Linked DNA regions of Homo sapiens. The protein of the gene in region 4 interacts with the protein of the main gene of each other region in a pairwise test. Each region holds a gene or a part of one and is shown on either strand. Other genes may lie near its edges. The genes, in order: RBM10, FOXD4L3, BMP7, KHDRBS2, CHTOP, NCOA5 and HNRNPR.

What was found.
Region 1: the proteins of KHDRBS2 (region 4) and RBM10 interact in binary tests that used the Homo sapiens proteins (3 or more experiments, as listed by UniProt).
Region 2: the proteins of KHDRBS2 (region 4) and FOXD4L3 interact in binary tests that used the Homo sapiens proteins (3 or more experiments, as listed by UniProt).
Region 3: the proteins of KHDRBS2 (region 4) and BMP7 interact in binary tests that used the Homo sapiens proteins (3 or more experiments, as listed by UniProt).
Region 5: the proteins of KHDRBS2 (region 4) and CHTOP interact in binary tests that used the Homo sapiens proteins (3 or more experiments, as listed by UniProt).
Region 6: the proteins of KHDRBS2 (region 4) and NCOA5 interact in a two-hybrid assay, tested with the Homo sapiens proteins (2 studies listed by BioGRID).
Region 7: the proteins of KHDRBS2 (region 4) and HNRNPR interact in binary tests that used the Homo sapiens proteins (3 or more experiments, as listed by UniProt).

Annotation. Positions count from the first base shown.
Region 1 is NC_000023.11:47,147,904-47,151,908, reverse strand, and holds part of RBM10 (RNA-binding protein 10), read right to left. Parts: intron 1-4,005. UniProt on the Homo sapiens protein: Binds to ssRNA containing the consensus sequence 5'-AGGUAA-3'. May be involved in post-transcriptional processing, most probably in mRNA splicing. Binds to RNA homopolymers, with a preference for poly(G) and poly(U) and little for poly(A).
Region 2 is NC_000009.12:68,301,094-68,305,695, reverse strand, and holds FOXD4L3 (forkhead box protein D4-like 3), read right to left. Parts: upstream 2,830-4,602; 5' UTR 2,745-2,829; coding exon 1,491-2,744; 3' UTR 612-1,490; downstream 1-611.
Region 3 is NC_000020.11:57,221,321-57,225,325, forward strand, and holds part of BMP7 (bone morphogenetic protein 7 preproprotein), read right to left. Parts: intron 1-4,005. UniProt on the Homo sapiens protein: Growth factor of the TGF-beta superfamily that plays important role in various biological processes, including embryogenesis, hematopoiesis, neurogenesis and skeletal morphogenesis.
Region 4 is NC_000006.12:61,680,880-61,684,884, forward strand, and holds part of KHDRBS2 (KH domain-containing, RNA-binding, signal transduction-associated protein 2), read right to left. Parts: intron 182-4,005; coding exon 84-181; 3' UTR 1-83. UniProt on the Homo sapiens protein: RNA-binding protein that plays a role in the regulation of alternative splicing and influences mRNA splice site selection and exon inclusion. Binds both poly(A) and poly(U) homopolymers. Phosphorylation by PTK6 inhibits its RNA-binding ability.
Region 5 is NC_000001.11:153,632,467-153,636,977, forward strand, and holds the start of CHTOP (chromatin target of PRMT1 protein), read left to right. Parts: upstream 1-1,599; 5' UTR 1,600-1,877; exon of another isoform or gene 1,878-1,895; intron 1,896-4,105; 5' UTR 4,106-4,122; coding exon 4,123-4,187; intron 4,188-4,511. UniProt on the Homo sapiens protein: Plays an important role in the ligand-dependent activation of estrogen receptor target genes. May play a role in the silencing of fetal globin genes.
Region 6 is NC_000020.11:46,072,824-46,076,828, forward strand, and holds part of NCOA5 (nuclear receptor coactivator 5), read right to left. Parts: intron 1-4,005. UniProt on the Homo sapiens protein: Nuclear receptor coregulator that can have both coactivator and corepressor functions.
Region 7 is NC_000001.11:23,337,702-23,341,706, reverse strand, and holds part of HNRNPR (heterogeneous nuclear ribonucleoprotein R), read left to right. Parts: intron 1-686; coding exon of another isoform or gene 687-698; coding exon 699-855; intron 856-3,098; coding exon 3,099-3,217; intron 3,218-3,845; coding exon 3,846-3,953; intron 3,954-4,005. UniProt on the Homo sapiens protein: Component of ribonucleosomes, which are complexes of at least 20 other different heterogeneous nuclear ribonucleoproteins (hnRNP). hnRNP play an important role in processing of precursor mRNA in the nucleus.

The DNA.
Region 1 (4,005 bases), on a different chromosome or scaffold from region 4:
AAAAGCACAGGATTTTGAAGTTCAATACTTATTTATGGTCAATCTTAGCAAACGAAGATTAGATAATTTTCTTGATTTATTAAAGGATACATTCTAAAAACTTACTGCATGCACCATACTTAATGGAGAAACTTTAGACACATTCCCTTTTATTCCTCTCCCTTCTTCCTACTGTCTCAACTGCCATGTGCTGAGGATGGCTACACAGAAGGGGCTGCCTGTCAGCCCTAGATTAATTGCTCTTCTGCAGACTGCCTTTATGGGAAAGAAAAGTAAACTATCTTGTCTAAGCCATTATCCTTTGGACTTTCTGCCACAACCAGCCAAAGTAAATCTTAATTTGTGTACCCAGTATCACTTATACTATTTAATATGGTACTAAAAGTCCTGGACAATACTATAAATGAAGAAAAATAAATAAGTGACAGGATAGATTTGCATACAATATGACCAACTACTTAGAAAGAACATCAGAATCAACAATGAAGTATTAGAAATAATAAGGGCATACAGCAGGGGTAACTTACAGAAATCAACAGCTTTCCTCTACCCCAGCAAATACCAGCATGAAAAATATTTTTTAAAAAATAAGATAATGGCCTGTAATCCCAGAACTTTGGGAGGCCAAGGTGGGTGGATTGCTGGAGCTCAGGAGTTCAAGATCAGCCTGGACAACATGGTGAAACTCCGTCTCTACAAAAAATTAGCTGGGCGTGGTGGTGCGTGCCTGTAGTCCTAGCTACTTGGAAGGCTGAGGTAGGAAGATCACTTGAGCCTGTGGAGGTCGCCACTGCACTCCAGCCTGGGTGACAGAGCAAGACCAAGTCTCGAGAAAAAAAAAAAAAGATAATGAAAGTGACTGAAGTACCTAGGGATTACTTTAACAAAGAATACATAAGACCTGTATTTCCATTTATGAAAATGAAAGCTTTTTATGCTCTTTACATAAATTTCAAAATATTCTCTACAAAGGTCTTAGATGAAATGACTACTTACAAAGATAATTTTCCCCAAATTAATAGAGAAGTTCAGTGTAACATCGATCAAAATTCTTGTTGTTTTTGAGGGACTTTGATAACTTTTGATATATAATAAAGCCCCATAAATGATTAAACCAGCTTTGAAAAATAAGTGCAAAGGAGCTACTAAGACATTCTATAAAGCCATAATAATAAAAACAGTAAGGTGCTGGCACAAGAATGTGCAAATAGACCAATGGAACAAATCACATCACTCAAGACGGATCCATGTACATGAGGGAACCTGAAATCAGATGAGGTACCACAGATCAATAAAGAAAGAATGGACTATTTAGGAGGTGGTACTGGAAAAACTGCCTACTATATGGAAGAAAATAAAACCGGAGCCTACCGTATGCCATATTCAAGAGTGGAATCTAGATGGATTAAAGATCTGAATGCAAAAGGTAAAAACTACATTAGGCTGGGCGCAGTGGCTCACACCTGTAATCCTAGCATTTTGGGAGGCCAAGGCGGGTGGATCACCAGGTCAGGAGATCGAGACCATCCTGGCTAACACAGTGAAACCCCATCTCTACTAAAAATACAAAAAATTAGCCAGGTGTGGTGGCGGGCGCCTGTAGCACCAGCTACTCGGGAGGCTGAGGCAGGAGAATGGTGTGAACCCGGGAGGCGAAGTTTGCAGTGAGCCGAGATCGTGCCACTGCACTCCAGCATGGGTGACAGAGCGAGACTCATCTCAAAACAAACAAACAAACAAACAAAAAACACTATACATTAACAGATAAAGCAAAAAAGGTGACGTTGGGCTGGGCACGGTGGCTCACGCCTGTAATCCCAACACTTTGGGAGGCCGAGGCAGGCGGATCACCTGAGGTCAGGAGTTCGAGACCAGCCTGACCAACATGGAGAAACCCCATCTCTACTAAAAATACAAAAAATTAGCTGGGCGTGGTGGCGCATGCCTGTAATCCCAGCTACTTGGGAGGCTGAGGCAGGAGAATTGCTTGAACCTGGGAGGTGGAGGTTGTGGTGAGCCGAGATCGCGCCATTGTACTCCAGCCTGGGCAACAAGAGCGAAACTCCGTCTCAAAAAAAAAAAAAAAAAAAATGATGCTAGCACATCAAAATTAACAACAGGCATCTACTCTTGGGGGAAGTATTAAGTAAAACTCAGTAGACATGCCCCATGATGCCCTTGCCAGCAATTAGAAACAAAGTAGTAACATATACATGGCAATACAGACAGATGTTAAAAATACAGCACTGTGCCGGGTGTGGTGGCTCATGCCCATAATCCCAGCACTTTGGGAGGCCAAGATGGGAGGATCACCTGAAGTCGAGAGTTCGAGACCAGCCTGACCAGCATGGAGAAACCCCATCTCTACTAAAAATACAAAATTAGCCAGGCGTGGTGGCACATGCCTGAAATCCCAGCTATGTGGGAGGCTAAGGCAGGAGAATCGCTTGAAACCGGGAGGCAGAGGTTGTGGTCAGCCAAGACTGCGCCATTGCACTCCAGCCTGGGCAACAAGAGTGAAACTCTTTCTCAAAACAAAGAAACAAAACAAAACAAAACAAACAAACAAAAAAAAACAGCACTGTTGGCCAGTTACAGCGGCTCATGCCTTTAATCCCAGCACTTTGGGAGGCCAAGGGAGGAGAATTGCCTGAGCCCAGGAGTTTGAGACCAGCCTGGGCAACATAGAGACACCCTGTCTCAAAACAAAAAACAAAAAACAAAAAAAACCTCCCACTCTGAGTAATACAAAGTTCAGGAAACAAAACGAAGACTGTGGCACCATGCCATGTGTGTCAACTGAAAACACAGTCACTCAAAACAACACTTCATATTTTCATTTTCTATGAAAATGTATCTATATGATACATTTATGTATGTATTTATATGATACATGTATCTATATGATACATTTATATGAAAATGATCTATATGATAAATCTATGATACATTTTCTATGATATGTATCATAGAAGGATACATTTTCTATGATATGTATCATAGAAGGATACATTTTCTATGATATGTATCATAGAAGGATACATTTTCTATGATATGTATCATAGAAGGATACATTTTCTATGATATGTATCATAGAAGGATACATTTTCTATGATATGTATCATAGAAGGATACATTTTCTATGATATGTATCATAGAAGGATACATTTTCTATGATATGTATCATAGAAGGATACATTTTCTATGATATGTATCATAGAAGGATACATTTTCTATGATATGTATCATAGAAGGATACATTTTCTATGATATGTATCATAGAAGGATACATTTTCTATGATATGTATCATAGAAGGATACATATCAAACACGACAGAGCAGCTGCCCACAGAGGTGGGAATTGGGAATAAAAATGAAAAAATAAACATGACAAGAGGAAGCCTTTTGCTGACCTATGACAGAAACCTACCTTGAACTGGAAAGTATGATGAACTCAAACCTCTGCACTTGAGGGCTTTTAAAAGTCAATGGTTTTACTTGGTAATAAAGTTTGAACAAAGTATGTATGTCAGCTACTCAAATTCAGAAATGGCCACAGAGCACTTCTAGTGAATACCGTCCAAAATCAAATGTCTTTCAAAAAACATTTCTAATGAAAGCCAAGACTGAATAACACTAGGTGATGACCTTATCTCAAATTTGGGCTCACTTTTCAGAAAACAAAATATTACAATTCTACATTTTTAAAAGGAGTGGTGGTAGAAGAAACACTTCGTAAAACATTTTAAAAATTATTTTCTCTTTTTATAAAGCTATTGACTCTTGAGTCTTAATAGAGGCTTTCTGAGAGAGTTAGGTCTGCTTTTCTAGGCAATCTTCAAGTGTCATGGCTGGGTCACCTGCCTCGGAATCACCTGGATGGCGAGGGATCACTGAATTTTACTCAGGATTTCTGTATTTTACCCAGTGTTCCAGCTATTCCTTGTTCATAGCAGAGCTGAAGAAATAACTGTCTGAGAGTATCCATTCCCAGCAAGTATCATG
Region 2 (4,602 bases), on a different chromosome or scaffold from region 4:
TGCCAAGAAATTCCAAGAGACGGGATGGAGAAGAGAAGCCGGAGAAAAATCGGCCAATTAGACTCCTGTAAAAATGTGTGTCTCCATGTTTGTCCTCCCTCCTGAAATAAGAAATTCATAGCTGGGGGTGGGGAGTAGATGGGGGCTGGGGGAAAAACTTTCTCACATTCACGGAGCAGCTTCCCTCAAAGCGGCACGGAATCGGGAACCCCACTCAGGACAGGGGAAAACGGCCAAGTTCCTAGAAATTTGTTTTCTTTGTGGGGAGCAATTCATGATGGGCGTTCTTGTCTGGTTTCCCCCCACTCCGTCCCCTGACGCCGAGTAACACTTAAACCTTTCTAGTTGCAAAGTCTTTTCAGAGTTGTTTTTTTTTTTAAGAAATAAGTTTTGAAAATTCTAGTGCTTAAAATATATATATATATATATATATATAATTTATAGCCTTTTATTTTCTCTGAGTACATGTTGGCCACTACATTCCAAATTTATCTCAAATGGTTTTCCAGCTTGTTGAGGGGTGATGAAAAATAAATGGAGAATATATTTACATGCCCTCCTATTCTTTTCTTTTAGAAGTCTCATAAATAGTAAATTTCCTATTTTAAAAGCCAGGACATTTTCAACCTCAAATATTTGGAATTTTTAAAGGCCATATTAAAATGGATTACTTCTGCTATCTATAATAAATATGAATTGTGAAAATAAATTGTTTGAGGGAAAATAACGTAGGTTTTAAAAAGTTCCATTTAGAAAGGGAAGAATGAGATGTAATAGAAAATAAACGATGTAGTGTAGTGACTTAGCATTTTATTTCGTCTATATAACTAGGCTTAATTTTAACACCTTAATTTTAACATTAAAGATGGCACGTCAGACACACAGATAAGAAATCAATGTTCTGAAATTAATATCCTACTTACATTAAACATCCCTATCAGGAAGACACAGAGAGTAGAAGCATTTTGCACTAGACTTAGGAATAATACTTCCAGCTCCAAGGAAGTGAAGAAGGGGGAACATGTTTGGCATCGGAGGCTGTGTTTTTGTTTGCTTGCTTGTTTTTCTTTTAATGCCAGAACAAAATACCCCACTCACGTTCATAGTACCCCAGGAAATGCGCAAATCGGGACAGCCATAGAAGCCACAACCGAAGGCAAGAAAAGATGACTTGACGCCCTGCGAAGGTTACGTTCAGGTGGTTTTTAGAGGAACGTAATCCAGCTGTTTCTTTCTAACCATTTTGCAGCGAACAGAAGTTCGTGTTTGCTCTCCAGCGGGATTCAGATGCACACGCCCAGTATGGGCCGCGCAAGGTGGAGTGAGCAGCTGCGGGTCGCTCCCCACTCCCACCTGGCTCTAGGAGGGCCCTGCGGAGTTGGCCAGGGAACTGGGCGTGGGCGATACTAAAAAAACTGGTGAGGTCCCCTCTCCGCCCAAAGGGGCAGCCAGCGATGTCAGCCTAGAGCCCTCTGCCACTGCCTGATACCTCAGCAGGGCCGACGAGGCCGACAGGTGCCCGCCCAGCACCGCGCCCTTGGTGGGAGCGCAGCCGTTGGCGCAGTCCTCCTCCTGATGCTGCTGCTATTGCTGCAAAATTGTCCGAGCAGCGGCGGCGGCGGACACTTGCAGCAAAGGGGCAGCGGTCTGGGGATGCAACAGGCTTGATGGTCGCTGGAGCAGGTGGCAGTAGCTCCACGCGGTCGGGGACAAATTCTGCGCAGCCCCTGTACCCGCTCCCCTGACCCCTTGCATAATACTCTCAATGCTGAAAGAGATGCATCCGCCTCCCGGTGGCGACGCCAGACCCTTGCCCTCCTCCCAAGGCTGAGGACCAAGTGAGGGCTGCAGCACGGGAAGGGTGCCGGGGTCGCCAGGGCCGCGCCTTCTGCTTTCTTCGGTGCCCCGGCATAGACGGGGGCCGAGAGCAGTAGGTAGCGAAGAGGATGCGGGTGCAGCAGAGCGTAAGGGCGTCTCCCGGGGGCGGTGTTGGGGTAGGCCCCCGGGACTGGCTGCGGCGGGGCAGGGGCCCCAAGCAGAGGGCCTGGGCGGGGGTTGTGCAGGGCGGCGTGTGCAGCAGGTAGAGGGAAGGGGTGGGGCAGGTGGGCTCCCGGGGTCAGTTGGTGGCGCTTGAAACGCTTCCTACGCCGGAGAAAGCTGCCATTGTCGAACATGTCTTGGGAGGCGGGGTCCAGGCTCCAGTAGTTGCCCTTGCCTGGGTGGCCCGGCTCGCGGGGGATCTTAACGAAGCAGTCGTTCAGCGAGAGGTTGTGGCGGATGCTGTTCTGCCAGGCGGGGAACTTGCGGCGGTAGTAGGGGAAGCGGCCACTAATGAAGGCGCAGATGCCGCTGAGCGTGAGGCGCTTGTGCGGGTTTTGCAGGATGGCCATGGTGATGAGCGCGATGTACGAGTAGGGGGGCTTTGCCGGCTGCCGGGCATCTTCAGAGGCCGCCGCAGACCTTGGCGGTGCCCTGAACTTGGTGCCAAACTCTGAGGGGTCGCTCGGGCCGCCGCCGCCCTCGATGTGCTCTCGGGGAAGCGCAACCCCGCCCCACCGGGCCACCTGCAGCCCCGGCTGGAGCGACTGCTCTAGGAACTGCTGGCTCGCCGCCTCCTCCTCGTCTTCCACCTCGTCTTCATCTTCCTCCTCTCCCAGGACATCGATTTTACCGTCTTCCCCATCGGAGTCCCGGAGGCTGCGCTGCGGTGTGGAGCGAAGGCGCTCAGCTCTTGGCAGGTTCATGGAGGAGCAGGTGCTTCAGTCGCAGGGGATGTGGCGGCCGATCACCTGGCCTGGGGCGGGCTGAGCTGGAAGCCTGGGATGAATGTTGCAAGAAGCAGGAACGCTAGTGGTTACCCTTTGGGATGTTTTCGTCTGCTTGTTTCTACTCCTTTGCAACAACGTCCGGCAAAGATGCCTTTGCCTTTTATAAAAGCTTCTTCAAGACCATGTGTGGTGGACTCCCCCCTTTATAACCCTTCTTCCCCTACCTCGGAGCGGTGCCACTTCCTCCTAACGTAGTCCAGGGATGATGGTCTTCTGGGCAAACACCCGTCCGGAGAAAAGCCCAGCCCCCTCCTCCTCGCACCCACCTGCCACCAAGGAAGATGCTCTACTCATCCGGTGCAGCCAGACAGTTGGCAAGCCTTTGCACGGGTTCTGTTAAGGCGCATTTAAACCCGCGCAAATAAAAGCGAGGTAGGAAAGTATGATACTCAACATTCTATGACCACCTCAACATGCAGCCTTCCCGCCTGGAGAAAAGAAATGGTGGGGCAGGAGGCTGAAATGTACACGGTTGTTTGTAAAGGAATGTGTAACCGTAAAAGTATGTTTTTGTGTTTCACAGCTGGTAATCACCCATTTTCATTGGTAGAGTCTGTCCTTACCCAGAATGGTGAGCTGAATTATATTTAAGGTTCTGACAATATTCCCAGGCTTCAGGGGGGTGTTGCTTTGCTCCTTCTACCTTCCTTCCCACCTCCTCAAGATGCTCTCCCTGACTCAAATTTTCAGAAAAGGCTCAAATGTCCCAGCACTAAATTGTGTAAGTTTACTCAGGGAAGGCAGGAGAGCTCACACGGAGTCCTCTGTCCCCTTGTAGCAATGGTTCTCCAATTTCTTTGAATATTTAACCACAGAAATACATTTTATATCACAATCTCACACATACAGACATAATACATAACTAAGATGGGTTTCACGAAACAATATACTTACACTATAGTGATCACTGATATTTCCTTTTAAAAAAAAATGGCCATAACCAACTAAATTGATTTCACACATACCAGTATGGGCCCAGTTTGAAAAATCCTGTTCTTACAAAGTGGCCCCACATACAAGAAATGCACCCACTCTATAAGGGCTTCTCTCTCTCCCTTTCCTCCTTCCTTTCTTCATCCTTTATAACCAATTCATTTTTAGAGACAGGGTCTATGTTGCGCAGGCTGGCTTTGAATTCCTGGGCTCAAGTGATCCTCCCGCCTCAGCCTCCTGAGTAGGTGGGACTACAGGCGTGCCACTATGCCTGGCTCTGGCTCTTCATTCTTTTTTTTTTTTTTTTTTTTTTTTTTTTTTTTGAGACGGAGTCGCTCTGTCGCCCAGGCTGGAGTGCAGTGGGGCGATCTCAGCTCACTGCAAGCTCCGCCTCCTGGGTTCACGCCATTCTCCTGCCTCAGCCTCCCAAGTAGATGGGACTACAGGCGCTCGCCACCACGCCTGGCTAATTTTTTGTATTTTTAGTAGAGACGGGGTTTCACCGTGTTAGCCAGGATGGTCTCGATGTCCTGACCTCATGATCCGCTTGCCTCAGCCTCCCAAAGTGCTGGGATTACCGGCGTGAGCCGCCATGCCCAGCCTCTTCATTCTTTCAGAAATGTCAACATTAAGTGCTTTTACTGTAATAAAACTTGGGACTTCAATGAGGCAAGAAGGGGCTGCAGTGTTGCCTTTAAATCAGTGGGTCCTCATTCACTATCTGCACTGGGGAGGGGCAATATGACAGCACAACTGTTCATCTCACTCGCTCCACATCCTTAGAAATAACACGATTTTTAGATTGGCTTCATGAAAATTAGCTCAGAGACTAAAGTAGCAC
Region 3 (4,005 bases), on a different chromosome or scaffold from region 4:
TCTCTGCCTCAATTTCCTTGTGTGGAAAATATGAATTGCCCCACCATTTCCCAATTTACAGGACTGGACTGCCACGAGGAGAAAGAAAAAAGTGTATCCACCAGCCAAGGAAGAAAAACATATGCGACTGGGGAAAGATGGAAGCTTCTCATCCTTAATCCCCAACCCAGTATTGTGCCTTCATTTCCTTGTCTGTGAAAGAGGGTGTGGGAGCAGGCACGGTGGTTCATGCCTGTAATCACAACACTCTGGGAGGCCAAGGCAGGAGAACAACTTGAGGCCAAGAGTTTGAGATCAGCCTGGACAACACAGTGAGACCTCATCTCTACAAAAGTAAAAAACTAGCCAGACATAGTGGTGTGTTCCTATGGTCCTAGCTACTTGAGAGGCTCAGGTGGGACGATTGCTCCAACCCAGGAGGTCGAGGCTGCAGTGAGCTGTGATCACTCCACTGCACTCCAGCAGAGCAACAGAGCAAGACCCTATCTCTCAAAAAAAAAAAAAAAAAAAAAAAGAGGGGTGGGCAGGGATAAGGGTGTCTCCATGGGGGGTTGTTGTGGGAAGCAGTAAAGAGCCCCCATTGCATGCAATTAGCTTTTGTCATCATGACTGTTCCCAAAGGCAGCCATCCCTTCTCCCAGCATAGACAAGTGTCATGGGAGAGAGGAGGCTCCAAGATCGCATTGTGGACCCAGCTAAATCGATGGAAACGTAAAGAGAGCAGACCTTTCCCACAGGTGGTCTACAAGAGGGGCAGGACTGACCACCTCGTGGGGACACCCGCTCGGCTTCACTGAACGTGATATAACACCTACGGGGAATCAGGGAAAATGTGGGCAACCTGCTGAGCCCCCGCCCGCCGCAAACACTCAGCAAACGGAATCTGTTGCCATCGATTCCCAGCCACCACCCGTATGCTCCCTGTGAAGCCAGGCTCGGGATGAATTATGGGAAGAAATAACAGGGACAGAGATAAAAAAAAGCCACCAAGGCCCACCAGATGGCCTCAGGCCACAGGACAGGAAGCCAACGGGCATTTGGCCCCCAGATGCTGAGTAGGGGATACTGGCTGTGTCTCTGGCATTAACTGGATTGAACACAGTGGTTTGCCATCTCTGCCCAGCTGGGTGGCTTTTTCCAGAGGGATCCTTGCAGATCCATGAGAGGACCCCAAGCGGAACCAAAGGCATTAAGGGCCTGCCACTCCCTCTCAGGCAGCTTCAGTCTCGGTTCTGGAGTGAGGCCCAGAGAAAGGGACTGCGAGGAAAAATGCCAAGGCTCCTTGATGAGGGCTGCTCTCCTCTGACCTTCCAGGACATCCTGGAAGTTCCCAGCAGCCAAAAGGAATCCTCCTTGCCCTCTGAAAAGGCTACTCAGGAAGCTGACCTGGCACATCCTGAGAAGGCAGCTCAAAACCAGAACTCATGCCCTGGGGCTGAGGTGTAGTGGCAAGGGGTAGAAGCCAGGAGACGAGGAAACAGGCATGTAGCCTTCAGGAGCAGCAAGAAACTCCAGAGGCTTCTGGAAGCTTCCAGAAGCTTCCAGAAGCCTCTGGAGCCAGAGTCCAAAGGGATCTTCACCCTTAGCCAGTCCCTTTCCTGTGCCATTGAGACTGACAATTGTGGTCTGGACTACACTTTGGGCTCAGTCTCATGGGAAGAAGAACAGTCTTCTCTGAGACACCAAGCTGAAGGGAACATGGAATGTGTCACAGAAGGCCAATACATGGTGAAACCCCATCTCTACTAAAAATAAAAAAATCAGCCAGGCATGGTGGTACATACTTGTAATCCCAGCTACTTGGGAGGCTGAGGCAGGAGAATCACTTGAACTTGAGAGGTGGAGGTTGCAGTGAGCTGGGATCGTGCCACTGCACTCCAGCCTGGGCAACACAGTGAGACTCCATCTCAAAAAAAAAAAAAAAAGGAATCTCTTTCCTTCCTCTTGGGCATGTAAGACAGCTCATGGGTGAGAAATTAGAGAGATCTTAGCCACCTGTTCACACCCCAGCACACAGGGAATCACCTGGGAGCTTTTAAAGCACACCAATGACAGTTCAACCCCTACGGATCAGGAGTTTTAAAAGCCTCTGTGATTCTATTGCACAGCCAAGGCTGAAAACCAGCTCAGGACTCATCAATGGACCCATCTGAGCCCCAGGTGAGGGAATCAGCACTATGGGAATCACTGAGGCACGGCCATGGCTAAGATGGTGACTGCTGAAATCTAAGAGCCTGGGTTTGAGCCCCACCTCTGCCACTTTGTAGCTGTGTGCTTTTGGGCAAGTTACTTCCCACCTCTGAGCCAGGCTCCGCACCTGTAAAATGGGGATGATACATCTTCATAGGAACCTTTCCAAGGCATGAAACAAAGCTGAAGTGTCCAGCACAGTCATAAACAGTAAGCACCACGCAACAAGAAGCCTCAACCACAGGGTGGAGACATGCTCTGGAACGTGACCATGGCTCTCTGCCCAAACACGCTCATGGGGGCTAACGGCAGGGCAAAACCCGCCCAGAGTCTTGCTACCAAGTCATGAATCCGCACATCATAAGTTGCCACCACCCCAGCATCCCCAGGAGAGGACTGGGCAAGGAGCCCTTGGCCCACTGCCCGAGGGCCGCCCTGTGAGGGGGCTGCATCGTTCCTCCTACCACATCCAGCCCCACCTACCTTCTCAGGTTTATGGACCAAAATCATCACGGCGTCCCCAGGGAGCTTCTCAGAAAGGCAGAAACTCAGGGCCCCCATCCCAGGGCTAGTCGAGGGCAAGAGCCTCTGCCTGGGCTGAAGGGACCCAGGAAACTGAGCCCAGGCCTCCTCTGCCAATCCATCCTGTGTGGTGGGGACAGGCAGGGGGCAGCTCCCTCTTCCTCAGAGTGACTCAGGCTGCAGCTGATCCAAATCTTGGCCCTCGAGACCACGCTGAGGTCACCCTCCTGGCAGCCAAAATCACTGAGATGAACCCAGGGACATTTTCATCCAGCTGCCAACATCATCTCGACCTTGGTGGCGGCCGACTCCCTTGGAGCAGATTCTGCTGCCCTGGCTGGCCTTGGCCTCCCAGGGAGGTTCTCAGAGGCCAGCTCCCAAAGCAGAAGTGTGTCGCCTACATGTGGGGCAGCGCTGTGGAGTGGGGCAAGCCTGACACATGCTCAAGGAGAGACGGGGAAGACTGGGATGGAAGATGCCAGGTCCCAGCTCCACAGCAGAAACAGGGCAAACAGCACAACCCCTACCCCAAATATCCTCACCTTCACCTGGAACCAAAGTCTGCACCAATGGAGACAGGAGCAAGTCCAGCTCCTGGAAGCCAGGCCCCAGCTGGCCTGGCCTCAGGCCTGGGGTTCAGAAAATGAGGATAAGACTCCGATCCTTTCGCAGCCCCCTCTCACCCCAGCAAGGCCTCTGGAGCCAAGGCCACTGTCCCCAGACCTGCCTCTGAGCCCCCACTCGCTCCACAGCCCGCCAAGGGCGGCTCCAACATGTCTTTCCAGCTGTCTGGGGCCGCGCTTTAAGCAGAGCCGCAGGGCTATGGAAGGCCTCCAGCTCGGCTCATTATCGGAATTTAATCTGGATTCCGAGAGATCAAGAGGAGTCAGTGGAAAGTGACTCCCACAAGGGGAGAGACGCTGAGGCTGACCCAAAGCCGGCTAATCCTCGGCACCCCCGGGGCTTTCCTGGAGCTCAGGCACAGCTCGTCAGATGTCCCAGCCCTGCACAGCTGGGCAGCTGGCGGCACAGAGACAGAGGCAGCCACATGGCGGGGACAGCAGGGCAGGCTCTGGGCTCCCCCGGGCTGAGGTCTGCAGGAGGCCTTCAGCTGGAAGAAGCTGTGCGGGCCCAGGTTGGGGACATGCAACCAGGTTGGGGACATGCAAAGAAAAAGCCTATCTCTGAACAGGCGAGCTGGAGGAAGCGTGGGGGATTTGAAGAGCATTTGCAAGCTCAGGGCTTTGTTCCTACTGGAAGATTGCAGAATTAGGGGAATTGGCTCGGTGGACC
Region 4 (4,005 bases):
CTATTACTTGTCTTGTTGCTGTTTATGTGGAGACCACAGGCTATGAATTGTCTTTGAGGTGAGGTCACAGGTGGGAAGGACCTTCAATATCTACCATAGGGGTGTTCCCTGTATCCCCCTCTGGCTGACCTTTGCGGTGGTGCCTTCAAGCTAGAGCGGGTTGTGGCCCATTCTTCTGGTGCTGTGAAAAAGAGAAAGATAGTAACACACACATGACTTCACAGTTACCAAAAATAGTCATTTAAGACACAATAGTTGACCGAGAAAAAGAAAACAAAAGATCTCAACACCGAACGCTAAAGCCTATTTTTTCCACATCGTGAGACCATCAAAAAAGTGTGTGTATATAAATGTGTACTGTGTATTTATTATGTGTTAGATTTAAATGCCACAAAATAGAAAGAGGAGTATCAATGTAAACCCCTGCCCATAAAATCTTTTTACATAGAATTCTTAAAAATAAATAAATAAATTGGATATAGGAAACCAGTAGTCCTTAGCCCTTGAATAACTTGAGAATCACCTGGAAATATTAAACAATCAAAATAAAAGATAACTAACACCTGCTCTCTGTCCCCCAAATCTACTGATTAGAAAACTCTATGGGCTGGGACCTACGGTTTGGTATTTTTCAAATACTCCCCAGATGATAGTTATATGGTCCAGGGTTGAGATCCATTGTGTTAAATTGTATAGAGAAAGTGAGAGACAAGCAGAATATAGAGTAGAAAAAACCTTAAGCAGCAAAATCAGTAAACAAAACAAAACACAAAGATATCAGTTTTTCCAAGTAAACAACTCAGTAAATAAAGAAGTATTAGTACACCAGGAAAACTCCATTTACCTGCTAATTTTGGCTAGGTTCCAAAACATTGAGGGTAGTAGAAATCTATTATTCCAAAAAAGCAAGAAACAAGTAACCAAGCTTTTGAGTACTGTGGAAAATAGCTATTGTAAAATCTGTGTCCCCAGAAAAGAAATGCAATTCTTCTTTAAAATAACTCAATGTTGGCTTTATGGTGACATTTTATGTGATTCCAGCAACTAGGTTATTTTGGTCTCTCAATCAGAATTTAGTTCCTCATCAAGAGCAGATTTCATGCATGGGTGTGTAAAAGGAGGTGCAGACAAAGGAAAGAAGGTTACTAGAGACGCATAGATATTGATAATTGATATATAAAAAAATGGAAATATTAACTGGGAAACAATTGCAGATTGAGGGCAACTAATGTAGGGCATTTGCCCCCAGATAGTTCCTCCGATCATAAGAATTAGTTGAGAAAGACTACTAGAAAAGCATAAAAAATTTCAATTGTACTCATTATAATATAGAGCAAATGAAAACAATCTACTATGTAGAAAAATGATCAAAAGTTTATCATTGTTGGGAAAAATGGCACTTAAGTGGACAAATATTAGTTTTTTGAGAATATTCTCACCAGGGCATTATTATTACAACTGATACCTGATAATAAATAAAAAATTATATCTCTTTCACTGTTTAGTCTTTTATAGGATATAAAATAGGAGTAAGAAAGAAATAAATATAACAAATGTTCCCATTGCTCAAAATACAGGTTTACTTGGATCAGAGGTTGGCATACTCTGGCCTGTGAACCAAATTTGGCCAGCTGATTGTTTTATAAATAGTTTTACTGGAACACAGGCATGCTGTTTATTTACATATTGTCTATTGCTGCTTTCACGATACAAAGGAAAAGTTCAGTAACTGTGATAGAGATTATACTGCTTGAAAAGCCTAAAATATTTATACTCTGGGCTTTTACAGAAAAAGTTTACAGATCTGTGCTCTAGACCATGTTGTTTTTGGTGGGAAAATGCAGATGTTGGTCTTTCTGATGTAATCTTTTGAGGGCAGGAATTTATCCCCAAACCATTTGACTTTATCAACATAAAAATGAAAAGAATTCCATGTATTTGCTTGATTGGAACTAAATAAAACTGTTTTTGGTGTACTCAAAGGGAAAACACATTCAGTGTGTGCAAGCTTGAAAGTACCTTCTTAGCCTTATGTAAAATGAATATTTACACCACGTTTATGAGATAATCCAGGCTATATCATTGTTTTTGTCCTCTGATGGTAAAATGTATCCCAATTTATCATGGTTTTTAACAAAAAGAATGTACTACTTTTTGCTCCAATTATTCCAGAGTGTTAGAAATCCCTGGGTTTCACTCTACAGGATTTAAGAGCTGAGACAATAGAGGCTTCAAGTTTTCCCAGGAAATAGAAGTCCCAGGTCCTTTTTTAGATTCTGAATGTTCCTGAAAAACAGCTAAACAATCATGAGCGGAGTGACAGAATACTTGTCACATACACTCCCAGATTTTTTCAGAATTTTAAATTGACATAAACCTAGGGACTTGCTACAGAGGACATAAGTGTTTAATAACTACTCATCAACTTGGCTTCAGTTGACTTTTTCTAAATCTCTAGGGCAGTTAATTGATGAGCTAAAACTCTTCATTTCCTAAATGTTAGCCAACATTAGAATAGGGACTGTTGCTATTCACTGTTGTTTCCCAAGTGCCTGGGAGAAATTCAATGCCTAGTTAGGGCTGAATGTAGTGAAAGGTTACATGAAAGAAAGGATGGATGAATGAACAAGGGAACTATGCAGAAAGTTCCAGTGATAATTCAAAAAACAGAAACAGTTGAGCTAAAGAAATTTAACATTTATTTAAAAAACTCTTTAATTAGAAATCTTATATATTTGTTATAGAGTTAAAGATCAGACTTCTTACTCAAAAGGGTTATCTAAGTATCAAAAATATTTCACTATTGAATTCAATGAAGTAATCGTAGTGCGATCTCATTATTAAAAAGTACAAAAGTATCATATTTCATGGCACAAATATGTGCTCTTTTATAACGCTCTGCTTCTATGTGAATTAATACTATGCTCTTTCTCCTTGCTCAAGGCTAGGAAAATGGAAATTATTGTTAGTTCATGATACTTGTACGTGGAAAAGTAAATCGCCAGCCAAAGTGATTTCCTATCCAAGCAAAAGTAAGTTTCTAATTTTCCAAGATTCCATACCATTAGCAGAGGAAATTAAGGACTTATTTCACTTAATTCAGACCTTGCTTCCATTGTTTACATGTTCTTGGTAACAATAGCAAAGAGAGATCAGGAAAAGTATTATTTTTATTTGTGTCCATCTTTATCTTTCCTAATATCAGAATGTTTATGTATAGTTACACATTTACAATTGCCACATGATAATGCACGTCAGTTTTTCTTAGTGAAAATATGTTCTTTGGATTGAGATTGGAGAGTACTGAACCAATGAACGTTTTTCCAGTGCCACCATAGAGTGTGTCATTGAACTTTATATGGTTGGCCAAGCCCCTCATTGCTCACCAGCGATATTTAGGCCTCTGGATTTCTTCACTGCAAGTACCACATATAGAAGGGATTCTAACCTGAGTCCCATGGAACCTTGAGCATGGAAGAGGCCCAAACATAGGGAGAGACAAATCATGACTGGGTTCCTCATGATGGGAGTTTCTCTGAAATTTGAAGTTGTAAAGACCCACGAATGAACTTAGAATTTATCTGTCCTCTTGGGTCTCTCAGTAGACAAGCAGATTCTAAATATTTAAAGCCTTCCTACGAATTTTAGAGTCCTGTTTTTTTCTAGTCCCATGGTGTGGTCTAAGATGTCATTTAAAAACTCATTGCATCCAGTGAAATTTAGAAATTTCTTTATCCTTTAGGGAAATGATAAAATAAGTAAGATTCTCTCAATATCAGGATCATTGTCACATGAGAAGCACTGGCTAGGCTATGAATTAATCCAATAACAAATTCCTCCTCAAAAAAGGTACCAAATAACTATACGCCAAATTGAAATTATGGAATGGGTTACATAATTGTGAATCTGAAAATAGCAAATCAGGATATGAGAAACAGAAGTTAAGTGACTTGATCCAATTGCCACCCTTTTTTGGCTTCCAATTCAGGCTTTAAAGTATCATAT
Region 5 (4,511 bases), on a different chromosome or scaffold from region 4:
TTCACCATGTTGGCCAGGATGGTCTCGATCTCCTGACCTCGTGATCCCCCCGCCTCGGCCTCCCAAAGTGCTGAGATTACAGGCATGAGCCACCGCGCTAGGCCGAAAGAATCTTCTTTCAATCAACGAACATTTACTTAAGTGGTACTATGTGTAAACACTGTAGGAACTGAGGCTCCAGCATTAAGCAAAATAACCACGATCCTTACCCTCACATGGGTAAGGATGCTGGGCCATTACTTACACACAGACACACACAAACACATACACACACGCACACGCCCAAGTGCCAGGAAGGAAAATGAAAGGGTCTTGACGTGCCAGTGGAGCAGAGGAAGGGTTGCAGATGTGTCATTCTCTCATTCCTCAAACATATGTACACTGTATTGTGCACATAGTCATTAGAAAAATCCCTTATTGAGGCCGGGCACAGTGGCTCACGACTGTAGTCCCAGCACTTTGGGAGACAGAGGCGGGCAGATCACTTGAGGTCAGGAGTTGGAGACCAGCCTGGTGAAACCCCATCTCTACTAAAAATACAAAAATTAGCGGGGCATGGTGGTACGCGCCTGTAATTCCAGCTACTCAGGAGGCTGAGGCAGGAGAATCGCTTGAACCTGGGAGGCGGAGGTTGCAGTGAGCCGAGATGGTACCACTGCACTCCAGTCTGGGTGACACAGCGAGACTCCATCTGCAAAAAGAAAAAAAAAAGAAAGAGAGAAAAATCCCTTATTGAGCAGGAAACATAGCTTATGCCCATAATCCTAGGAGTCGGGAGGCTGAGGTGAGAGGATCACCTGAGCCCAGTAGGTCAAGGCTGCAGTGATCCGTGATTCATTGCGCCACTGACTCCAGCCTGGACAACAGAGCCAGACCCCGTCTCAAAATAACAACAACAAATCAGAGAGAGAAAAGAGAAATCCCTATGTAGGTCTGCAACAAAATAAACACGGATGGCAGGTGTGGGGGGAGGACATGGAAACGCAATCGAGGACGCAAAGGTGCCCCACCCCAAGAAGGAGTAAACAGTATCTAGGCCAAGTTGGGGAGGGGAGGAAGTGAGGAGGAAAACATGGACGGGCGGTGGTGTTGGCCGGTGCAGGATGGGAGAGGAATTTGCTCCTAATACTGGCCTCCTGGGCCTTGGCTGGAGCATTTACGGCACTTCACAACTCTCAGACTGGGCGAGTGGCCATGAGGGGAAAACCAGTGCAAATTCCCCAGGCCCAATTGTCCGGAAGAAGACGAGGCAAGTCCGCGTAAAGATTTTTAGACGGTGTACCTTGGCTAGGGAACGGAGGGGCGAGGGAATTCGGGACCCAAATCCCCTCTAAGGCCCACATTAATAACTACCCCCAAGAGGTTGCAGCGCAACCACTACTGGAACGTGAAGTCCCCGGCACGCCCCAACAACAGGACCATTGGCCACGCCCCTAGGGGCGGGGCACTGCATGGAAAGCCCCGCCTTCGCCCTAAGGCTCCGCCTCTGACCTCTGCGCAGGCGTAGCTCAAATCTTTCCCGCCCTCTAGTCGTGCGCGGATCTGACGCCTGACGTAATTGCGTAGACGCCATTTTAGCCGGTCAGACAAGCACTGGACGTGGCGGCCATTTTGTTTTGGACACCGAGCAGGAGCTGGCGGCCGCTGCAGACGAAAGGCAGGAAAGGGCAGGCCGGGTGAGCAGACGGATCGGCCGACTAGACAGCCAACCAGCAACAACGAACTGAGCTCGCATACTACCGCTTACGCATCTAACCAACCGCCCATCTAGCTAACCCGAGCCCCTCCACCGTCAACTCAGGTTCGGCCGGTCCCCGGCCCGCCTGCCGGAGCCGTGGTGGCAGCCCCGGGAGGAGCACTGGCGTCTGTTTCCTTCGGTGAGTTTCGGTAGTGAGAAGGAGCCGGGGGAGGTGCGGTCTTGAGGAGCGGAAGGGGCCGGCGGACGCGGAAAGGGGGTGGTGGCATGTGGACATAGCTACGGTGTTGGAGCGTGGAGGCCCCGGGGAGGAGGCGGAGCCCCTGCGAAGGGGCGGGGGAGGGGCTGAACTGGAACCTGGTGGCGGGATTGATGGAGGTTGGGGTTTGATAGGATAAAAAGGAAACTTGGCGGGTAGAGCAGAAGTGGAAGTCTTGACAGGGCTTTGAGGATGGTAGGGAGATTAAGAAGTACAAGACTTTGAGGAATGTTGGAAATTAATGGCGGCTTTAGGGTTAAGTTTTGTGGAGGGCTCTTTGCGAGCTAATTCCCAGGTGAATTTAGAAAACCTTTCCTACTCCCCCAGATCGTCAGTTTCTTGTTAAAGTCCCTACTTGATTCTGGAGTTGAAAGCCACTTTTGAAACTAGGCATGCATATATATATGTATATATATACATACATATATATATATATTTTTTTTTGGGGGGGGACGGAGTTTCGCTCTTGTTGCCCAGGCTGGAGTGCAATGGCACGATCTCAGCTCACTACAACTTCCGCCTCCCGGGTTCAAGCGATTCTCCTGCCTCAGCCTCCGGAGTAGCTGGGATTACAGCCATGCGCCACCACGCCCGGCTAATTTTGTATTTTTAGTAGAGACATTTCTCCATGATGGTCAAGCTGGTCTCGAACTCCCAACCTCAGGTGATCCGCCCGCCTCGGCCTCCCAAAGTGCTGGGAAAACAGGCGTGAGCCACCGCGCCCGGCCCTGCCTGTATTTTCACTGTAGATCAGTGGTTCTCAACTTTAGCTGCACATTAGAAGCACCTAGGTAGCTTTCCCCCGACCCCACAATTGGTTCATTTCCAAACCTCATTACCAGAGATTGTGGTTTAATTGATCTAGGCCCAGATGTCTGTATTTTCTATTTTTTTAATTAATTTATATTTTTATAGAAACGGGGTCTTACCATGTTGCCCAGGCTGGTCTCGAGCTCCAGGGCTCAAGCATTCCTCCCGCCTTGGCCTCCCAAAGTGCTGAGATTACAGGCGTGAAGCACCGCGCCCGCCCTGTCCGGCCCTATGTTTTAAAAGCTCCTTGGATAAGTCATATGTAGTCAAGGTTGAAAATGACTGCTCTAGAGTAAAAGCCAAACTCGGCCCGGTGCGGTGGCTCACGCCTGTAATCCCAGCACTTTGGGAGGCCCAGGTGGGTGGATCAGGTGAGGTCAGGAGTTCAAGACCACCCTGGCCAACGTGGAGAAACCCCGTCTCTACTAAAAATAAAAAAAAATTAGCCGGGCATGGTGGCACGTGCCTGTAGTCCCAGCTACTCAGGAGGCTGAGGCAGGAGAATGGCTTGAACGGGGAGGCAGAGGTTGCAGTGAACTGAGATCACGCCTCTGCACTCCAGCCTGGGCGACAGAGCCAGACTCTGTCTCAAAAAAAAAAAAAAGCCAGACTCCATACTTTGATTGCTAGATTGGCTTCTGCCGTTTTTGAGAAATTCCCGGGTATTTTGTGGGCCTTGAAGTTTGTTTGTTTGTTTGGGGTTATTTGTTTGTTTTAAAGAGATGGGGTCTCAGGCCAGAGTGCAGTGGCATGATCACGGCTCTTTGCAGCCTCCAACCCCTGGGCTCTAGCGATTCTCCCACCTCAGCTCCCCTGAGTAGCTAGGACAACAGGTGCTGGCCACCATGCACCGCTAATTTTTTTTTTTTTTTTTCTTAGTAGAGACTGGGTCTCGCTTTGTTACCCAGGCTGGTCTCTAACTCCTGGCTTCAAACCATCCTGTGCCCTTGCCCTCCCAAAGTGTTAGGGTTACAGGCGGTGAACCACCATACCCAGCCACCTTGAAGTTATAATAATCTGAGGTAATTGCCATAGAAACTTAAGAACTTTTGCTGGGCGTTGGGTCCCAGTGATCCCAACACTGGGAGGCCAAGGTGGGAAAATCCTTTGAGGCCAGGAGATTACGGCTGCAGTGGCCACTGCATTCCAGCCTGAGTGACAGAGCGAGACCCTGTCTCAAAAAAAAAAAAAAAAGAAATTTAAGCACTTGAAATGTGCCCTCGTGTGCTCTTTAGTCATCAGTGATAAGGCCTTTTTATTTATTTTTGGCTTGGGCCTTGCCACTTATAGAAATGATGTCACTATTGTGATTTGCTCATTTTACGTATTGTTCTTTGTAGATTCTCGGGATTCGAAGATGGCTGCACAGTCAGCGCCGAAAGTTGTGCTAAAAAGCACCACCAAGATGTCTCTAAATGAGCGGTGAGGCAGCCAACAGCAACTTCAACTCCTTCCTAAGAAAACATTACTTAACTTGGCCCTGGGGTCCAATGCACAAAGCCAATTTTAAGCTAAATACCAACAGAAGGCTACAGACCTCTGTTCTTAGTTGCATCTCATGTGGTACACAAAACAAATTGGGCGGTTGTTTCAAAACCCCTTATCAGTAGACTTTTATGTTAAGCTGTCTGAAGTATTTATTTGGTGGGATGTATTTTAAAAGACTCCTAACACTCTTCCTTTTCACATTTTTTTACGTTGATACTGGGGTCGTGCAGCACGGTAGCATGGTACCCTGGCTACAGT
Region 6 (4,005 bases), on a different chromosome or scaffold from region 4:
TTACATATTTACTTAATGTCTGTCTGCCCTACTAGACTACAAGTGCCACAAGGACAAGAACTATGTCACTTTGATTCTGCACTACAAACCCACTATGTAGAACAATGTCTGTTATACGACAGATGCTCTATATGTATGTTGAATGAATCTTGCTCCAGTACAAACTTCTATAACCGCACTTACCACACTGTTCTGTAATTGTTTACGTGGCTTCCCTACCAAATAAGAAGTTCTCTTGAAGGCTTTGTAGCTCTAGGATACACCATAGGAGTTCAGTAAATGTTTAATGAATTGAATTATTCTACTAAACTGTAAGCCTCTCAAGAGCAGGCAGCATGTTTTGCTCATACTTTTGTCGTCTACCATGGTTACACACGTTAGGTATTCATCATGATGTCATCAGCTTGTGGAAAACCTCACCTCAGCTACACGGGCACAGCAAAAACAATTTAAATGCCAATTTTGCTTCCATGAAAAATATTTGTTATATATTCTAAGGTTCACCAGCATTCCTGACTTGTGAGAGCAAACATATCATAGACCAGGGACTTTAAATGAGAATAGCTAAGCATTATTTTTCTTATTAGAATAAAGTAAAGACTAACCAAGATTCTTACTTCAACCTTCCTTATTACATCATATAATCTTCCTAACATGTAACATCTGATGTAGCATGTAATGTGGGCAAACACTCAAGATCCAAAGAGAAAGGACAACTGCAAAGTATTTTTGGATTAATGATCGGCAGATAAACCTGCCTTGGGGAGCAGTTAGAAGTAGTCATTAGAGGTGGAATCCAATTTCAAGTGTTCTTGGCAATCAGGGCTGAGATATCATGATCCTGACAGACCACAGACCACACACAAAGCCTTGGGCTGGTGGAAATCGGGGTGGGGCATGTCATAGCATGTTATTTACCACCTTCGGAGTATTATAAGTGTTATGTTATGATTGGTCCTCATTCTTTTGAATCCACTGAAAAACCTTACTTACCTGTCAAAGTCCATCCCTGCAAGTTGACTAAAACTCTAGATTCGCAAAGTCTGGGTTCAATCTTCCAGTCTGAGAGGGCAAGCCCCACCCTTTCCCTCAAATAATTTGAAGTCCATGTGCAACAAAACTACTAATTCCCTCTCAAGTGCCTTCAGGGTAAAAATGTAGAAGAGGTGATATTCACAAAAGGAAAAAGAACCAAAGGCATGGTGGAAGTAGGGACAAAGAAGATAATAATTTTCTCAAAAGGAAAGGCAAAGCCTTTTTTCCTTTCTCCAAAAGATAAACACTATGGTAGACTGCTGTTCTTCTGGAGACGAAAACAAAACAAAAAACCCTTTAGGGTTGCTTTAGGACCCAAACAAAGAACTCCTCAGAACAAAAGGGCTCCTGCTGCTGGCCCCAACATATTTTTCAAAACAAGACTACAGCTAACAAAAGGGCAGTAGTATGCACGAATCAAAGTGCAAGAAGACAAAGCTTCCTGTGGGAGACGCTGGACCTCAGATGATAAGTGGGTTAGAATCAGGTTTCTGGAGCATAATAAGGTTAACAATATCATCCCACAGCACCAGAGGTGTTTTACTAAAGGAACCAAATGCAGCATACCCTCAGGTACTACATCACTAGAGGATAAAAAGAAACTGAACAGTGGTTAAATTTCAGCACTGGAGTCCACAAACTGAAGGCAGGTGGCAAACACAACTAAAATTCTGCTGTAAATTCCTCATCTATTCAGGAGGGGGAAAAAGGCAAATACTCTTTGCCTTGAGGGGAATATAGTCACACTGCTGGGAAACATTTGAGACGTAAGGGCGAAAGGGGTGAAGGGGAAAACAATGGCTCTGGTGGCAAGTGATGAGCTTCTGGTAGAATGTGTCTCTTCCTGAGGACTAAAGGGGTGTGCAGAGCACCAGGCATGTGACAGCCTACAGAGTAAGAACTGATAGATGATCATCTTGGAAAACTGTGATGGACTTTGAATTTCTCTTTGGCAAGAGACTGAAACTTCACATCCAAGATGGTTTTCTTTGGCTTTGGTTCTACAGACGGTCAGGGAGGAAGACCCCTGTCTTTTTCTTTCTTTTCTGCAAAGGTCAGCATCTCCTTTCTTCCTTTCTGTTCACCGGAATGTCTTCCTTGGGAGGGCCAGCCTCTTTCTGACCCTGAAAAATCCTTCATTAGCTCTTCAAACTTCTGTCACAGATATACTGTCCACAAATATCATCATCTAAATGGCTGGCTGCTGTATGATGTTGATCCTCCACCAGGAGGGCTTCATGCTACTGTTAGAAATGGAGACAACAGACTTGTCCAGAATATTGCCATTAGGTGGAGGTAGGATATGGACGTGCAATGAGATATCACACCTCACAGACCCAAATTTTACACATGTCCATGCTTTTCCTTAGGAAGCACTGACAACCTTCTCCAGCACAAACAGAACTTTCTTATTGGTAGAGGTGGCAGCTGCTGAGAACTGATGACTTCTTCAAGTGTTACTGCAGAGGTAATCACAACCTGGAATTTCTTTGTGGCCCACCTAGAGCAAGGGCTGTCTCACAACCAGGGAGCAAGCAATAATCAAAAGCATTAGGGCCCTGTGGATAAGCAGAAAGCATTTCAGGTCATATAAGAAACTTGTCTACAGCCAGGTTATTTCTGATGAGCCGATACCCAATGACTTTCACCAAAGAGATACCAGGTTTAACATCTTTCACAAATATATGGGGAAAAATCCTCTGCAGAGCGTTGGATGCAGACAAGTTAATTCTATTTGTTCTTCTTTAAGTCATTCAGAAGTACAGTCTTACTTCTTGTACCTAGAGGCCACATCTGCATAAAGATATGCTACAAGATCTGGACTGTCAAGGTGTTGAGCTGAAGATGGTAACTGAGATATCTAAGGCACAACTGGAATCATGATCCTGTCTTTGAAGAAGGACTAATGCTTAGTATCGATGCTTGACAACTTGCATGGTAACTATGCAAGGTACTCACAGGAGTTCAATGAAGTGGCCCTCAAGAGTTAGATGATAAGAATTCAGGCTGAAATGTGATCCAGAGCAGAGATTCCTCATGCAGAGTTCTGTGCTTGGCTGGGCCAATATTGTCAGAATTACACACTGACAGCTGGAGTCATCAGGGAGTCATATTATTGAATAGAGAGCAAAGCCAGCAGAACTGTGGTTTACTGAAACATCTGAAGAGGTGATAATCCTGTAAAACTCCCAAAGATACCTACGTTAAGTCCAGCAAAACAAGGTGTTATAAAGGTCTTGCCAGTATGCTTATACCAATATTCTTATTAAACGTAGAAAGCGCTAAAAATGTAGAGGTATAACTTTAGGAAATATTTGCCATAGGTAGTGTTTTTTTTCCCCTGTGAATGATGCACCCCCTGTGGCTGGGGGCATACAAAATGATTAGGGCTGCCAAATAAAGGCAGTTTGTTGTTGTCAACTATTGATACATTTGGAGTTATCTCAAGGCTTTGACTGGAAGCATGCACCCAAAGGAGGTACCCAGTGTTCACCCTCAGTTAAATGATTTGCCCCTTCCAGATTAATTACTTGCCCGTCTCACCTACTCTTTGCAATTTATGTCTGCCCTATTGGTATATCTTAAGAGATAAAGTATGATCAGGACAATGATTAAAATGTTAGTGCTCGCTATTTTGAATACAATGTTAAACCTGTCTTTTTTTTTAAGGTAAAAAACTGGGATTTTGAATACAATGTTAAATTTGTCTTTTTTTTTTTTTAAGGTAAAAAACTGGGACTCTTAGTTCGGTTTTTAGATGGGGTTACTAATGGTGACCATCATTCTTCCCTGAAGCAAATAAACATGACTGTATGGAACTTCATCATGTTAAATAACATGCTGAGGAACCCAGCTAGGGAAATATCACCAAGGGGAAGATGGATTGTTAATGGAATTTGAATTAGCCTAGCTGTCCCTCCTGTTGATTGTAAATAAAGCAGGAAGTCACTGCCCTATCCACACCACCAA
Region 7 (4,005 bases), on a different chromosome or scaffold from region 4:
AACTATAGCTCACTTAGTATTTTATTTGGACTGAAAACAATTGTTTCGCTTTTAAACTTGGTCATTTTTTCTTTTAAATCTGTGGGAATAGCGAATTAATCTTAGAACAAAAATTAATGTCAAGTTGGTTTTTTTTTGTTTTCGTTTTGTATTGTTAGGTGGAGAAAACCCAAACCACCAGCATGTTGAACTAGAGAAAACAGGGCACTTATTTCACACCGATACTGTATTTGAAGCAGAGCCAGGAAAATTTGAAAGTCCTTAAATCTTGATTAAGTGGTCTGTGGGTGTTCATTCTGTTTTTAAAACAAAACTTTTTAAAACTGTGTAAGACCCGAGAGCTGAGGGGCTTTTTAGTAAAGGATTTTGTAGTGATTTTGATCTTTTCACCAGGACAGAACAGCTGCTTTTGTTAATCAGCAATTCTACCTTCAGTAAATTAAAGCCTTTATCTTACCCGGTGTACATGAAGTTCCTTAAAGATCTAATGCTTCCATGTACATTTTCTATGGTTTTACAGGATTATTATTGCCAATTTAGGTCAGATACATCACAGGAGGAATAAATTATTATTTTGATAGAGGTTATTAGCAGCATGTATACAAATTAGTTTAGATAAATCATGCATTGTCCTACAAACTAGTTATTTCTGGCTTAATGTAATATAGCTCCTGAATTTTTTCCAGCAGCATAATAAAATGGCTAATCAGGTGAATGGTAATGCGGTACAGTTAAAAGAAGAGGAAGAACCAATGGATACTTCCAGTGTAACTCACACAGAACACTACAAGACACTGATAGAGGCAGGCCTCCCACAGAAGGTGGCAGAAAGACTTGATGAAATATTTCAGACAGGTATAATATGCATTTCTTGTTTCTGACTGGTTATGAAAGTGAGGGCAAACCACTTTGAATTTTATAGTTTTTTAAGGTTAAATAATACTTATTGTTTCTGATCTGTAGAGCTGAATGTTTGTTACTTTCCCTTCATTGAAGGCATATTGGGTTTGACTTTGATACTCTTATTTCATTATTTTGAAGCCTTCTTAGTGTTGAATATGCAGTCTTAGTTGTTTCAGAACAGCACATCGATTTGTCTTAGATTTACCACCCATAAAAATGTATGTTTCTGCATACCAAATTTTACATTTTTTTCTTAATCAAAATCAGTCATCATTTTGCTTTTGCTTTTCTACTTTTACCTTCTTAAAGTGATTGTTAAATCAGCTTAGGTCTGATTAGGTGGCATAACAAGAGGATAGCTGTATCGTCTGAAACCATAATAAATGTCAGACTCCTTGAGAGTTTGTGGCTTGTCTAGTTTCTAATAGAAATCCACATCTCTCCGTAATTTGGAAGTGTTTGGTTGTAACAGCTGCTTCTTTTTTTTTTTTTTAATCCAGAAGTGCCATGGTTAAGTGCTTAAGCAAATTTGAACATCTTAATATAGTTGGTTGTAAGTGGTTTGAAGTTTTAAAGAGGGAGAGAAATATTTACCCTTAGGGAGCGTTGTTCATAAATGAATGTGTCCTCCTCCTTTGGGGACATAGATGGAAACTTTCTTCCTCTGTGTTGTGTGTGCCTATTCAGATTCTGAGAGAGAATTGAATTGTCTCACTCACAAATGTGTCTTAAGTACAGTAGTAGCAAATAGCTGTTTTTTTTTTTTTGTCCTTAAAAAATTTTTAAATCTGGGAAGCTTAGCATAATTTTAGACATTAAAATGACTTATAAAAATGACTCCTGGGTCATGGTCGCATTTGAAAATCAGTCCTCAGGAACTTTCTGTGACATTCTGCCATAGAGAATTGGCAGTGATCTGCTTAGAGATGCTCTCTTGTAGAGTGTTTTGTTATTGATAAGAGGCTGATGGTTTGGGCGTAGACTTGGTTTGACAAAATGGATTGATGGGTGTCCTGAGTTGTGGCTTCGGGTGGTGGTATGGAATATTCAAGTGAGGCAGCTCCAGTTATTTACACATGCTCATTTCGAGCTTTTGAAACAAATCATGGCAACTTTTTTAAAAAGTAACTTTGGAAGTGGCATTACATTTATTTAAAATTTACTATATGGAATAAAGTTCTTTTTAGCTTTATCAAAATGGAGTCACTTTTCATGTTCATATGAACTTGGGGGTTTTAATCTACGAAATACTTGCATTTTACGTTGGATCAATTCTGAAATATATTCCATATGTAAATATGACACAAACTTAACAGACTTAAGAAATTATATTTTAAACTTAGTAGATGTTCTGTGTGCAGTTGAATATACTTACATATATGAAATGCAGTGTATATATTTTCTGTCAAGTTTACTTGTAAGACCATAAAGTCTTTATTGCCATTTGAAAATGATTGTCGTTCTTGACAGTCAATGTGAATGCCACAGCATCTTTTAAATCTCAGCTTGTCACTTCAGAAGAACAAAGAATGCCTTAAAGTATGACTTTCAGAATTGATTAATCAAGCTGCACTTGCATTTGTAGAAGTTTAAAATTATGCCTTTCCACATTCTGACTGCAGCAAAGTGGATGCTCAGATAAACAAATGCATTTCAGTTTATCTTTGGTGTTCAGGAGGGAAAGCCTTTTGACACTTTTTGGAGAGTGGAAAGAATTACTTAGTAAAATTTGTTTTCAGATTTTCCTCCACCTCTTAGGTGGTTAGCATCAACTGTAACCGTCTGTAATTTGAAGGTTTATCCTTGGAAAACGCAATGTATTCTTATCACTCTAATATAAACCAAAATTTGTTGTATTAATGCATAATCTGTAATACAGTATGTACATCAGATTTAACTTTCAAGACTTATACCTTTGGGGGAGTGGGAAATGGATGTTAGGATTTGGCGGGGGAGGTTTGTGGATATGGAGATTGAAATTCATGTTTTTGGTTGTTGACATTTTATCTTTATTTTCATATTTGTCCTGGACCTTTCTATGTAGTATTTGGATAGCTGCGTATATGCATATAGTTAAATGAAAATACAGTTTGTTAGTGATCATATTGAATGTAACAATTCTTGATTAAACGTCAGTAGAGCTTAGATTACCCCTTTTGTTGCAATAACGTTACCCCTTTCAATTTAATTTTTAGGATTGGTAGCTTATGTCGATCTTGATGAAAGAGCAATTGATGCTCTCAGGGAATTTAATGAAGAAGGAGCTCTGTCTGTACTACAGCAGTTCAAGGAAAGTGACTTATCACATGTTCAGGTAAGGTCGTTACTCAGAAATGTCTTTGAACAATTAGTAATCTGAAATTATTTTACTATTACTTTTTTTCCTATGGAGAAGTGGTATTTTTTGTTTGTGACTACCTCTTCTTTTAAAAAATTAGTTTAAAGGAAAAAAACTGCTTGTGGCAGAGTTTCAGAAGCCCAAGTATAAAGCAAAAGTTTTCTCCCACCCCCTTGTGCAGTAAGTTATTTTAAAAACTTAAAATTAAAGCCAAGTTTTGATGGTTGTTACTATAGGTTTTTACATGTTACTCAGCTTTTTAACATTTGGGGGTTATTTGATCCTGTTTTATTATCTTGGAGGAAAATGTAGGTGGGAGGAATAGTTTCCGACATCTGGCAAAGACAGTCTAGATACAGTCACATATCAACAAGTGGAAGACTGTGTTTTCCCAGGGTAGAAGGTAAGCTCCCTGAGGTCTATACTGCCTTACTGCTGTCTGCTCCAATCTCTGGCACATAGTAACCACTCGGCAAATACTTGTTGAATGAATCAGTAAATCTTTTGTTAAAATCCTGGTTTTCTGAAATTTAAATTTAATTATGTATCTGACCCTTCAGATATTTTTGGTGATTCTTTTTATTGAATTACTTGTCTGTTCTAGAACAAAAGTGCATTTTTATGTGGAGTTATGAAGACCTACAGGCAGAGAGAGAAACAGGGGAGCAAGGTGCAAGAGTCCACAAAGGGACCTGATGAAGCGAAGATCAAGGTAAAACTTGACTTGGGTAGTTGTAATGAAATTGCATTTAATGATGAGGTCA